Linked DNA regions of Homo sapiens. The protein of the gene in region 1 interacts with the protein of each later gene in a pairwise test. Each region holds a gene or a part of one and is shown in the gene's direction. Other genes may lie near its edges.

The links. The genes of interacting proteins can lie anywhere in the genome.
Region 2: the proteins of CEP83 (region 1) and YES1 interact in binary tests that used the Homo sapiens proteins (3 or more experiments, as listed by UniProt).

Annotation. Positions count from the first base shown.
Region 1 is NC_000012.12:94,305,929-94,310,369, reverse strand, and holds the end of CEP83 (centrosomal protein of 83 kDa), read left to right. Parts: intron 1-262; coding exon 263-452; intron 453-1,452; coding exon 1,453-1,557; 3' UTR 1,558-2,672; downstream 2,673-4,441. UniProt on the Homo sapiens protein: Component of the distal appendage region of the centriole involved in the initiation of primary cilium assembly.
Region 2 is NC_000018.10:731,224-739,994, reverse strand, and holds part of YES1 (tyrosine-protein kinase Yes), read left to right. Parts: intron 1-183; coding exon 184-260; intron 261-3,033; coding exon 3,034-3,187; intron 3,188-7,029; coding exon 7,030-7,161; intron 7,162-8,771. UniProt on the Homo sapiens protein: Non-receptor protein tyrosine kinase that is involved in the regulation of cell growth and survival, apoptosis, cell-cell adhesion, cytoskeleton remodeling, and differentiation.

The DNA of each region.
Region 1 (4,441 bases):
CAAAGTATCAAAAGATTTTAGATCTTTAATTAGCAAATAAAACTTTATAATGAGTTGATAGTCTGCAATGCTAATGATTGCTAATGATTAAGATGTTATGTCATGTTTCTGTTTATCTTTCTAGGTAAACAGATTTTTTATCTATATATTATATATAGATCTCATAATTTAGAAATTCCAGTTTAAAATTATATTCTGTGAATCATACTGTGCTTCAATAGGGTATAACCATGTTAAAGAAACATTTCTTTTTCTTTTTAAGACAAAATGTTCCTTTTGAAGACTATACAAGGCTTCAAAAAAGACTAAAAGATATACAGAGAAGACATAATGAATTTCGAAGTCTAATTTTGGTTCCTAACATGCCTCCAACAGCATCTATCAATCCTGTTAGCTTTCAGTCATCAGCCATGGTTCCAAGCATGGAACTACCATTTCCTCCTCATATGCAGGTATGAGCATTTATTTTAGGGGGAAAAAAAAAGTCGTACATTTTTGTAGGTTTTTATGTTTAAATATGGTGATAAAACTCAAATTATAACTTTGGTCAGTGCTCAAAATTCACCACAAAAATGGCATAAACATTTAAAACTACTTTTAACTTCTTCCCTTTCATTTAGCATAGAAATTTGCTGAATTCAGTTTGAATCATGATCCTTTAGTGTTGGTGCTGAGAGTGAAATCTCTTACTGGACGATAGAAAAGAGGAAACTTGATTGAGTCATTGAGTAACCTAGAGTTTGTAGCTTATTCATAATGTTAATAGTAATTACTACTGAGAATTTACTAACGCAGTGAACTGTGCATGTTCCGTGCAATGTCTAATACTAACGAAAAATGCTTTGAGGGCAGATATTACTATTCCTAATTCATAGATAAGGAAACTGATTCAGAGTGAAGTGACTTGCATAAGGTCATAGCTAATAAGTGACAAAGTTTCAAACCTAAACCTGTTGAATCCAAAACCCGGGCTCTTTCTATTGTATCAAGCCCCTGAGGTATTGAAGGAATCAGATTGATTCTTTTTCAGAAGATGGGAGTATTAATAAGTAATTATGTTTTATAACATAAGCACAGAAGATTTTAATCACTGAATTGAATCTCAGGCCAAGTGCTTTGTTTATAATAAACTGCTGTTAAACACCAGTGTTGTTGGAAAGTTACCATGTAAGTATACCTGGGCCCTGCATTAGTATTTTCTAATTCACTCCCTGGTGAATTTTATACCTAGAGAAGAACAGACTACGGGTTTTGCTTAAGGCTAGAGCCTGAGGCAGGAGAGAAGCAAAACTAGATGGTAGTTTAGCCCATGCTACTGTTTTTAGACTGCTACAGTGGTCAGCATTTCCTTGCCAGATGTTATAGGCATATATAAAAGAGGCAGTCCAAGGTTGCTACCTAACAGTTTTTCTAATAGTTTCTTTTGCTATGCTTTCTCTACATCATTTTAAGGAGGAACAACATCAAAGGGAACTCTCTCTACTTCGCAAAAGACTAGAAGAACTGGAAACAACACAAAGAAAACAACTAGAGGAACTTGGATCTTCCGGAGAATGATGTTCTTGGAGAACAGGCAGATCAAAAGAGGTGAAGTTGGTGACTCAGTAAAACTTGACATTTTAACCTGTGGCATTTAGATACTTTTTACTGTTTGCCAAAACACTTGAATGTGCCTCAAGAAAAGGTACCTACTACATGCTGTATTGTATGACTGTCAGGATTTTAAGATTATACAAGTGAAGCATTAAAAGAGAAATTCTCAGAGATATTTAGAATATTTGACAATGGTTTGAGAATGTAAAACAAAAAGGAACTAGTTAGAGTCAAGTTTTAAAATTTTTACTTTGTTGAATTTTTTTTTTTGGCATTTTGAGTGAAATATAACTATCATTAATTCTCTCTTCATCTTTGAGATGCTTGGCCATAACAGGGTCCATACACATCTTCTGGTTTACTATATACAAAAACTGTAGTTGAAAAAAGATGACAATTTAAAAGTCAGCCTAAAGAATGTAAAGGTATCTATATACAAAAGGCTACCTTTTCTAAAATCTGTGTGCACATAATTAAAGAGCTTAATTTTTTTTTAATCGTGTGTTTAATTTTACATCAACCATATAGCATATATTTAGCAATATGACAGTCTACTGATTTTGGCTTTGTTAGAATAGAGAATAAGTGCAAATAATTAAATCCTATGGCTGTATTAACAAGGGGGCCATTGATTATAAAACTTGAACTCAGGTCCTTTTATAAACATTGTTGGTATTTAACTTTACTTCCCATTACTGTGGATCTAACCAAATAATTATGTGTTTTGTGTCCCTAAGTATGCTCTCATTTTTTTTGGTCTACACCCATTGGAAGCCTTTTTAATGTGACATCTTTTAGAGGAATTCTGCTGGAATAATTTCATGTTAACGAGGCTAAAGCTCAAGTCTCCCAAATTAAGTGGAATGTTCATTATCCCAAGGTGTTCATAGTCAAAAGTCCCAGTTGATAGTGAAGAAGGCCAGGACTGTAATTGAGCAGTCCTTAGCACCATTTAGCAAACTAGGTTTACTTACTACATAATATAGCTGCTTATTCACAGCATATACAGTGACACCTTATCTCTGAAAAATAATTTCCACGGAGCCACTTAGAATAAAAAAACTATTATAACTAGAAAATTGAAAAAAAAAAAAGACAGTCCACAGTTACATCAAAATGTTTATTTTTTGGATATAGACATTTAAAACATTCATCTCCAAGAACAGCTTCAATCAGGTATACAATAAGAAATAGACTTTAAATCCTAATACAGAAAAGGTAACAGAATTTTTTTGAATGCTGCTGTAGACACTAGTGTTAGAAAAAAAAGTTTATAAATGGTTTTGCACCAAAAAAATATGCAAAGAAACTTGAAAATAGAAATTGTTTGCCATTTGTTGCTCTGGTTGCTGTTTAATATAGACCCAGTGACTGATTGTCTTCAGCACACATCTAATTTGGCCATTTACTGCATTTGGCTAATGTGATCCAAAATGTGATCTAGATAGTGCTTTTCACTGGAGGATTGACAAACACGCTACATACATTAGTGAATCTTCATACCACCTCAGTGAGGTAGCTTAGAAATATTATACAGAAATTGAGGCACAAAGAGGTAAGTGACTTGCCCAAAGTTCCCAACAGCACAGTCCCTGGAAGAGGAGGTAACTCTCCACACAGGACTCATGTGCCAGAAAGCTGGACAGGGACACCCTCATGTAGCATTTAGTAAATACTTAGATAAAGCTGTAGCTGATCCTTTGAGTTTTCAGTACCCTAAAGTAGTAGGGGAAGTCTTTTGGGCAACTCTCCTACCCTTGGCTCTCAACTTTCCTACTGTTGTTCTCTTATGAACTCCTTCACCTCTTTGAAGACTGTAGCAGCCTTCAATGGGGACCAGACCTCTCACCTTTATTCTGATCTGTCATCTATTTGGTAGTTTTGTTTGTTTGAGGTGTGTCCGTTGGACAGACAATGGTCAAAAGCAACAGGATTGGGAAGGTGCCTATCAGGGTAGTAACTGCTTATTTTCTCTGATCAGTTTGTTGAGGTGTCACCTCTCTCATGCTTTTCCAGATAATACAGAAGCAAAAAGGAATTGCCTTTAAGACAAATTCATATTTAAATCCTAATGCTCCATACAGTGTTGGTAAATGATTTCAAGGAATATGTGATCAATGTTATTTGACTTGAAAAAATTTTCTTTCCTAGATGGGGGATTTGGAGCACCAAGGGTAAAAGGTGCCTGCCACAAGAAAAGCTCAAGAGTTGCCAATTATGCTGTTTACTTCTTCTGGTTTAATAGAAGGAAAACACAGTGGTATTAAAACTGGTCATGAGCAGCAAAAATTCAGGAATTAAAAAATCAGCACTAAAAAGACTACAGTATAACTGGATAGAGAATTCTTTAAAAAGAAAGGCATGAATAAAATGGGTATTTTAAATTCTTTCTCCTGCGAGGAATACTTTCAAAAAGTACATAGTAAGACTAAGATACCAAGTTGTATACTAATATTTTTCAGGCCTTGGGCCTCAAATATATATATTTATATATAATACTCCAGTGTGAACAGCAATTCGATAAAATGTAAAATGTATCTTTTTTTTTTTAAATCACACACAAGTATTCATAACCACAGGGTTCACCAGAAATCTAAAGCAAGGAGACACTCACTCATATAGAAATGGAGTTACTCTTCCACAGATCGTTCTGATCAAAGGTTTTGGAACAGAAATGAATTAATGATTTTTTTGTATAATATCCAACATGTCCACTATCAAATACATTTAGTATGAAAAAACAGATGAAGAAAAGGAACATACATTAGGACAAAGTATCTGGTTAAAATGCTGTTCATTTAAATAAAGCCCACTCTCCTTACTTTAGAGCTCCTTGGTGAAATGGAGG
Region 2 (8,771 bases), on another chromosome or scaffold:
ATTTCAGCTTAGAGACCTCTTCTAGGACCTAGATAATTATTTGGAAACTGCAAAACTGCACAAAATTTAAAAAAAATGAAAAGCTAAGAAGTTTTGTGTTGTGATTTGGGGTGGAGGAGTATTCATTTCAATCCTAATATAAGATTTGCTTATTTTTTATGAATATCTTGCTGTCTGTTACAGGAAGCTTATTAGATTTCCTTAAGGAAGGAGATGGAAAGTATTTGAAGCTTCCACAGCTGGTTGATATGGCTGCTCAGGTATCTGTATATATACATGTATCCATTTGAATTAAAAGTGTAAATTAAAATGTGGAATAATCTTACCAGAATATTATAGTATGTGTAGTGAAATGGTGGGATTTTATTTTTATTTTTTATTTTTTAGAGACAGCGTCTCATTCTGTCACCCAGGGTGGAATGCAGTGGTGCACTGATAGCTCCGTGCTTGAAGAGCCTTGAATTCTTGGGCTCTAGCAATCCTCTCGCCTCAGCCTCCTGGGTAGCTAGGACTGCAGGCACAGGCCACCATTCCCAGCTAATTTAAAAAATTATTTTTTTTGTAGACACAGGGATCTCTCTGTGTTGCTTAGGCTAGTCTCAAAGTCCTTGGCTCAAAGGATCCTCCCACCTCAGCCTCCCAAAGTATTGGGATTACCTGGCCAATAATGGAATTTTAGAACTGGCAGGAACGTCAGAGATAATCCAATGTGAGCTCTTAATGATACAGATTAATGAAGTATCAAAAGATGAGAGGTATCTAAAATTCACAAAACTTGTTAGTAACAGAACGAGTATTAGAACCAGCTATCTAACTCTTAGTCCAGTGGTGTCCTGTATCATACGGTTTCTTAGAAAATAGATGTTTCCAGGCCAGGTGCGGTGGCTCACGCTTGTAATCTGAGCACTTTGAGAGGCCGAGGTGGGTGGGTCACTTGAGGTCAGGAGTTCGAGACCAGCCTGGCCAACATGGTGAAACTCTGTCTCTACTAAAAATACTGAAAATTAGCCAGGCGTGGTGGCGGGCGCCTGTAATCCCAGCTACTCAGGAGGCTGAGGCAGGAGAATCGCTTGAACCCGGGAGGCGGAGGTTGGAGTGAGCCAAGATCTCGCCATTGCACTCCAGCCTGAGCAACAAGAGCGAGACTCCATCTCAAGAAAATAGATGTTTCCACAAATGTAAAGTCTATATGTATTTATATTTCAACAGATAATTTTAAGAAAATTAAAATGGATGAGGGCTGTTCCAAAGAAAATATTAGTAATCTAAAGTGTATGCTGAATTTTTTTTTTTTTTTTTTTTTTGAGATGGGAGTCTCGCTCTGTCACCCAGGCTGGAATGCAGTGGTGCAATCTCGGCTCACTGCAAGCTCCATCTCCCAGGTTCACACAATTCTCCCGCCTCAGCCTCCCGAGTAACTGGGACTACAGGCGCCCACCACCACCCCCAGCCAATCTTTTGTATTTTTAGTAGGGACGGGGTTTCACCGTGTTCGCCAGGATGGTCTTGATCTCCTGACCTCGTGATCTGCCCGCCTCGGCCTCCCAAAGTGCTGGGATTACAGGCGTGAGCCACTGCACCTGGCCTGAATTTGTTATTTACTATAGTCCAACACAAGAATTAAGATGGTATATATACAGTTTAAAATGGGACTTTTTTACTCTTCTGACTTTTTGTTTTAAATATATAGTGAAAACTGTTAAAAGTTTCTCTTCAGATATGTGGTAGGTATTTGAGAGGCCTTATTATTGGCTTTGGTTGACATGCTGGTTTTGGAATCTTACCTCCTAGCCTCCAAATGTCCACAGAATCTGACAATTCAGAAAAGCTTTATACTGAGAAACTATACATAGGCAACAGGCATATGCCACGCCAGTTCATGCTTCTGAGTTAGACACTCTATGGTAGGGGAGGTTGGCAATCCATTTTTGTTTTTTAAAAAAAAAAAAAAATTAGGTTTTGTGAGCCACATCCAATCTGTCATACTTTTTTCTTTTTACAACCCTTTAAAAATGTAAAAACCAGGCTGTGCGAGATGGCTCCTATAATCTCGCTTTGCGGGGCCTGGGCAACATAGTGAAACCCCATCTCTACAAAAAAATACAAACATTAGCTGGGTGTGGTGTCGCATGCCTAAGTCCCAGCTACTCACTAGGCTGAGGTGGGAAAATTGCTTGAGCCCAGAAGATAGAGATTGCAGTGAGCCACGATTGCACCACTGCACGCCAACCTGCGTGACAGAGTGAGACCCCGTCTCAGTCAATCAATCAAAATGTAAAAAACAGTTTTAGTTCTCTGGCTGTGCAAAAACAGGCTGCAGGCCACTTTTGGCCTACAAGCTGTAGTTTGGGAACCTATACCTTGTGGTTAATACCTTTATCACCATGTCATCTTAGGTTGTGCCTGATAGAGACCTTGATGAGCTTGTATCCAGAGGTACTAAATTACCTTGTGATTTACCTCTTCTCCTAACCACAGACACAAGAAGACATTAGGAGGGTTAATCTTGGTCTTCAGAGTAATGTTAGGTTTTATTTTTTTTGAGGCTGAGTCTCGCTCTGTTTCCCAGGCTGGAGTGCAGTGGCACAATCTTGGCTCACTGCAACCTTTGCCTCCTGGGTTCAAGTGATTTTCCTGCCTCAGCCTCCCAAGTAGCTGGGACTACAGGTATGTGCCACCACACCCAGCTAATGTTTGTATTTTTAATAGAGACAGGGTTTCACCGTGTTGGCCAGGCTGATCTCGAACTCATGACCTCAAATGATCCACCTGCCTCGGCCTCCCAAATTAATGGGATTATAGGTGTGGGCCACCGCACCCAGCCAGTGTTAGATTTTTGAAATCTGAATTTAGCCTGCATTTTTATTATGTTTTCTGGTTTTCCTGTTATCTTCTAGACTATACCCTGTTACCATCATCTCCTTCTAAAATAATATGATTTTCAGTGACACAATTTGATATTAACCATAATTGTCTTCTCTCTGCTTCCCTTTGTATCGTATGTCTTGTGTTTTTTGTTTTTCTCTTTCCAAGATTGCTGATGGTATGGCATATATTGAAAGAATGAACTATATTCACCGAGATCTTCGGGCTGCTAATATTCTTGTAGGAGAAAATCTTGTGTGCAAAATAGCAGACTTTGGTTTAGCAAGGTTAATTGAAGACAATGAATACACAGCAAGACAAGGTAAAATTACTTTTACATAAAAGCTTGTAATGTGTTGTGTGTTTTGCTTAACTCTCTTGACTATACAGGGTTTTCCAGAATAAGAATTGTTTTAGCTTCCCTCAGAAGAGTCATAGAGACATTGATTTCATTCATAAAATCATGTACTGCTGTGGCTTTCTGATAGTTATTTCCTCCAAGAAAGAACTTGACTAGGTATCCTTTGCATTATACATAGAGCAAGTAGTAGCCTCTTTACACTTCTTTTGACATGACAACAAATATATTTTAATTTCTTTCCTAGAAAGGCCAGAGGTTCTCAGTCAGAGGAGATATTGCCCTGTACCGCCACTCACCAGGGGACATCTGACAATGTCTACAGACTTTTTTGGTGGTTACAACCTGGGGGCTACTGCTTGACATCTAGTGGGTAGAGGCCAGGTATACTGCTGAACCTCCTACAGTGTACAGAAATGTGCAGGCAAACCCCCCCTTCCCCCCACAACAGAATTATCAGGCCCAAAATGGTAGCGGTGCTGAGATTGAGAAACCCTGCTTTAGACATAGTGCTTTCTTTCAACCTCCATACTTCTGTACAGTTACCTCCATCTGGAATGCCTTCCTATCTGTAATGTTTGTTGTTGTTGTTGTTTTTCGAGATAGGGTCTCCCTCTGTTGCTCAGGCTAGAGTATAGTGGCGTGATTTCAGCCCACTGCAGCCTTGACCTCCTGGGGCTCAGGTGATCCTCCCACCTCAGCCTCCTGAGTAGCTGGAACTACAGGTGCACACTACCACGCCTGACTAATTCTTTGTATTTTTTGTAGAGACGAAGTTTTGCCATGTTGCCCAAGCTGGTCTCGAACTTCTGGGCTCAAGCAGTCCTCCTGCCTTGGCTTCCCAAAGTGCTAAAATGGCAGGCGTGAGACACCATGCCCGGCCTGTAATCTTTACATGTGAAAATCCTAACCATTCTTTAGGGCCTAATTTAGCTGCCACTTTTTTTTTCAATAGTTTTTGGGAAACTAGTTCTTTAGTGGTGATTTCAGTGCACCCATCACCCAAGCATCTTGCACTGTACCCAATATGTAGGTTTTTTTGTTTGTTTTTTTGAGACGGAGTCTCACTCTGTTGCCCAGCCCAGGCTGGAGTGTAGCGGCACGATCTCGGCTCACTGCAACTTCCGCCTCCCAGATTCAAGCGATTCTCCTGCCCCAGCCTCCCGAGTAGCTGGGATTACAGGCTCGTACCACCACACCCAGCTAATTTTTGTATTTTCAGTAGAGACGGGGTTTCACCTCCAACATGTAGTCTTTTATCCACCCCCCAACCTTTCCCCCTTACTCCCCAAAGTCCATTATATTACTCTTATGCCTTTGTGTCCTCATAGCTTAGCCCCACTTTTAAGTGAGACCATACAATATTTGGTTTTCCATCCCTGAGTTACTTCACTTAGAATAATGGCCTCTAGCTCTAAGTTTCTGCAAAAGACATTATTTCATTCCTTTTTACGGCTGAGTAGTATACCATGGTGTATATATGCCACATTTTTTTTTATCCACTCATTGGTCAATGGTCATTTAGATTGGCTCCATATCTGCAATTGCGAATTGTGCTGCTATAAACATTTGTGGATGTATCTTTTTCATATAATGATTTTTTTTTTTTTGCTTTGAGACACAGTCTCAATCTGTTGCCCAGGCTGGAGTGCAGTGGTACAATCTCAGCTCACTGCAACCTCCACCTCCCAGGTTCAAATGATTCTCCTGCCTCAGCCTCCCCTGTAGCTGGGATTACAGGCACCTGCCACCAGGCCCGGCTAATTTTTGTATTTTAGTAGAGACACGGTTTCACCATGTTGGCCACGCTGGTCTCAAACTCCTGACCTCAGGTGATCCACACGCCTTGGCTTCCCAAAGCGCTGGGATTACAGGCGTGAGCCACCACACCTGGCTGATTTCATTTCCTTTGGGAAGATACCCAGTAGTGGGTTTGCTGGATTGAATGGTAGTTCTGCTTTTCGTTCTTTAAGGAGTTTCCATACTGTTTTCCATAGTGGTTGTACTAATTTACATTCCCACCATCAGTGGAAAAATGTTCCCTTTTCACCACATCCACACCAACATCTATTGTTTTTTTTTTTTACTTATTCATTATGGCCATTCTTACAGGAGTAAGGTAGTGTCTCACTGTAGTTTTAATTTGCATTTCCCTGATGATTAGTGATGTTGTATGTTGTAGTTGCTCCTGGTTTTTTTTGTTTTGTTTTGTTTTTGAGATGGAGTCTCACTCTGTCACCCAGGCTGGAGTGCAGTGGCGCGATCTTGGCTCACTGCAAGCTCTGCCTCCCGGGTTCTCGCCATTCTGCCTAAGCCTCCCGAGTAGCTGGGACTACAGGTGCCTGCCACCAAGCTCGGCTAATTTTTTTTTTTGTATTTTTAGTAGTGACGGGGTTTTACCGTATTAGCCAGGATGGTCTCAATCTCCTGACCTCATGATCCGCCCACCTCGGCCTCCCAAAGTGCTGGGAATACAGGCGTGAGCCACCGCGCCTGGCCAAGTTTTGCTTTTTTGCCCAGACTGGAGTGAAGTGGCATGATCTTGGCTCACTGCAACCTCTGCCCCCCAGGTTCAAGCAATTCTCCTGCCTCAGCCTCCCGAGTAGCTGGGATTACAGGCATGCACCACCACACCTGGCTAAGTTTTGTATTTTTGGTACAGACAGGGTTTCACCGTGTTGGCCAGGCTGGTCTTGAACTCCTGACCTTAGGTGATCTGCCCACCTCGGCCTCTCAAATTGCTGGGATTATAGGCGTGAGCCACTGTGCCCAACCACCTGCCACTTTTTAAATAAAACATTTTGTAATGGTGCCAAGGAAAATTGATCATCTGTTTGTCTAAATATCTAAAGAACTCTGTTTTAAAACACTATCTACAAACACATATAAATAACTTAAAGAATGTAAGACACCTATAATATTATTTCTGCAATAAGTTTATAAACTTCATGAAAGCCATGCTTTTTTTTTTTTTTTTTTTTTTTTTTTTGAGACGGAGTCTCACTCTGTTGCCCAGGCTGGAGTGCAGTGGCGCAATCTCAGCTCACTGCAAGCTCCGCCTCCTGGGTTCACACCATTCTCCTGCCTCAGCCTCCCGAGTAGCTGGGACTACAGGCTCCTGCCACCTCGCCCAGCTAATTTTTTGTATTTTTGGTAGAGACGGGGTTTCACCATGTTAGCCAGGATGGTCTCAATCTCCTGACCTCATGATCCACTCACCTCGGCCTCCCAAAATGCTGGGATTACAGGCTTGAGCCACCGCGCCCGGCCGAAAGCCATGCTTTTTAGGTTTCCATAGTGATTAGCATAATGCCCTCCACAAAAAAGATATACAGTAAGTATTTGAGTTAATTAACATGGACTTTTAAAAGTAGTACAATAAAATTTTCCAGAATGATATAAAAAGTAGGAAAACCCATAAACATTATAACTCAATAGAATATTCACTCATCAACCAATAGTTAACTACAGCTATTAGGTGCCAGACTGTACTTAAAAGTTACACATATTATAACATGTATCTTTGGCTTACTAGAGCTTCAACCTCTATTTTCTTAAATTGTTTTCTGTTCCCACAGCCAACTTATTTTTTATATCATCAGCTGTCTAATCAGGAAGAAATGTGATTTATTTCAATATGAATTTTAAAAATTAAAGAATTTTTATCCCATGTATCTTGTACATTTAAAGAATTGACACTGATGACTACAGTAGAGATATTGACAGAACATTAGCCCTGCATATGCTATGTTTACACAAATAGATTTTTAAAAAACAATTAAGCAAGATGGTCAACATTATTTTAGGTGCAAAATTTCCAATCAAATGGACAGCTCCTGAAGCTGCACTGTATGGTCGGTTTACAATAAAGTCTGATGTCTGGTCATTTGGAATTCTGCAAACAGAACTAGTAACAAAGGGCCGAGTGCCATATCCAGGTAAGCTTGCATTTTATAGCTCTTGGTTATCTCATGAGTGGCTTTATCAGGAGTTTATTAGGAACAGAATTGTAAGCGGGGAAAAGGCCTTTATTTCTTCTCATAGTCCCCCTGCCTCTCCCTCTCCCCACTCCTTCCCTTTACTGTGGCATTGGATGGGTAACTGTGGCATTGGACGGGTAAGTCAGTGAAAGCCACGATCCTTGACAGGGTGAGCACATGAGATAGGCCCCACATTCACCTCAGCTTTCTCAGGACATTTTCCAAAGGGGCCTCTTACTGTTCTCTCAGATAATAAACATATCTTAAATATCCTGGCTCATCCACCCTATACCCTAAATAACTGTTCTTTCCCAGTAGTGTGATTGGTGTTTTGTTTTTTTTTTTTTTTTTTTTTTAAACACAGTCTTGCTCTGTCACCCAGGCTGGAGTGCAGTGGTACAGTCTGGCTCACTGCAACCTGTCTCCCGGGTTCAAGCAATTCTCCTGCCTCAGCCTCCCAAGTAGCTGGGATTACAGGCACCCACCACCACACCCAGCTAATTTTTTGTATTTTTAGTAGAGATGGGGTTTTGCCATGTTGGCTAAGCTGGTCTCGAACTCCTGACCTCAGGTGATCCACCTGCCTAGGCCTCCCAAAGTGCTGGGATTACAGGCGTGAGCCACCGTGCCCATCATGGTATATTTTTTTAAATATGTACTTGCCTTGTTTTCTTCAGTAGATTATTTTGAGATTCTTTTCTTGTTTTATTTCTCTAACCTATTTATAAACCAGCACTTTAATAAATATATCTGCCATTAATAAAGAGGAAAAATGAAAGTGTTTCCCTTTCAAAATTAAGAGACTTTTTTTTTTTTTTTTTTTTTGAAATGGAGTCTCGCTCTGTCGCCCAGGCTGGAGTGCAGTGGCACGATCTCAGCTCACTGCAGCCTCCACCTCCCAGCTTCACGCCATTCTCCTGCCTCAGCCTCCCGAGTAGCTAGGACTATAGGCACCCGCCACCACGCCCAGCTAATTTTTTGTATTTTTAGTAGAGACGGGGTTTCACCGTGTTAACCAGGATGGTCTCGATCTCCTGACCTTGTGATCTGCCCGCCTCGGCCTCCCAGAATGCTGGGATTACAGGCGTGAGCCACCGTGCCTGGCCTCAAAATTAAGAGATTTATATAGTTTCTAGGGGGAAGGAGAAATTTTAGCTCACTTGAAATTCAGCGATCAGTATTACTTTAGTTTGTTACTTCTAAACTCTTGTACTGAAGTATCCTAATGTTGAGAGTGAAAGCATATAAAATTTAATCTTTAGGAAAAACTGTTTTGCTAATCTTATGGGTTTTGCATGTTATCTAACATATTCCTCTTCCCTACAGTTCCCTCCAGCTGTAGATCTAATGCCATCAAATTTTATCACCCACTTTGTCTGGTTGCTGTTATTCACTGATACCATTCAAGTTATTCTCATTTAATGACTCACCATTGTCCTCTCCAACAAAACTCCTCTCCTGTCTTAACTCATTGTCATCTTAATACACATGGTGATGATTCTTCTATTACCCTGGTCTCTTGTAGCTTGAACTCTTCTCCTGTGTAATCTTGTCTTTCACTCTACCTT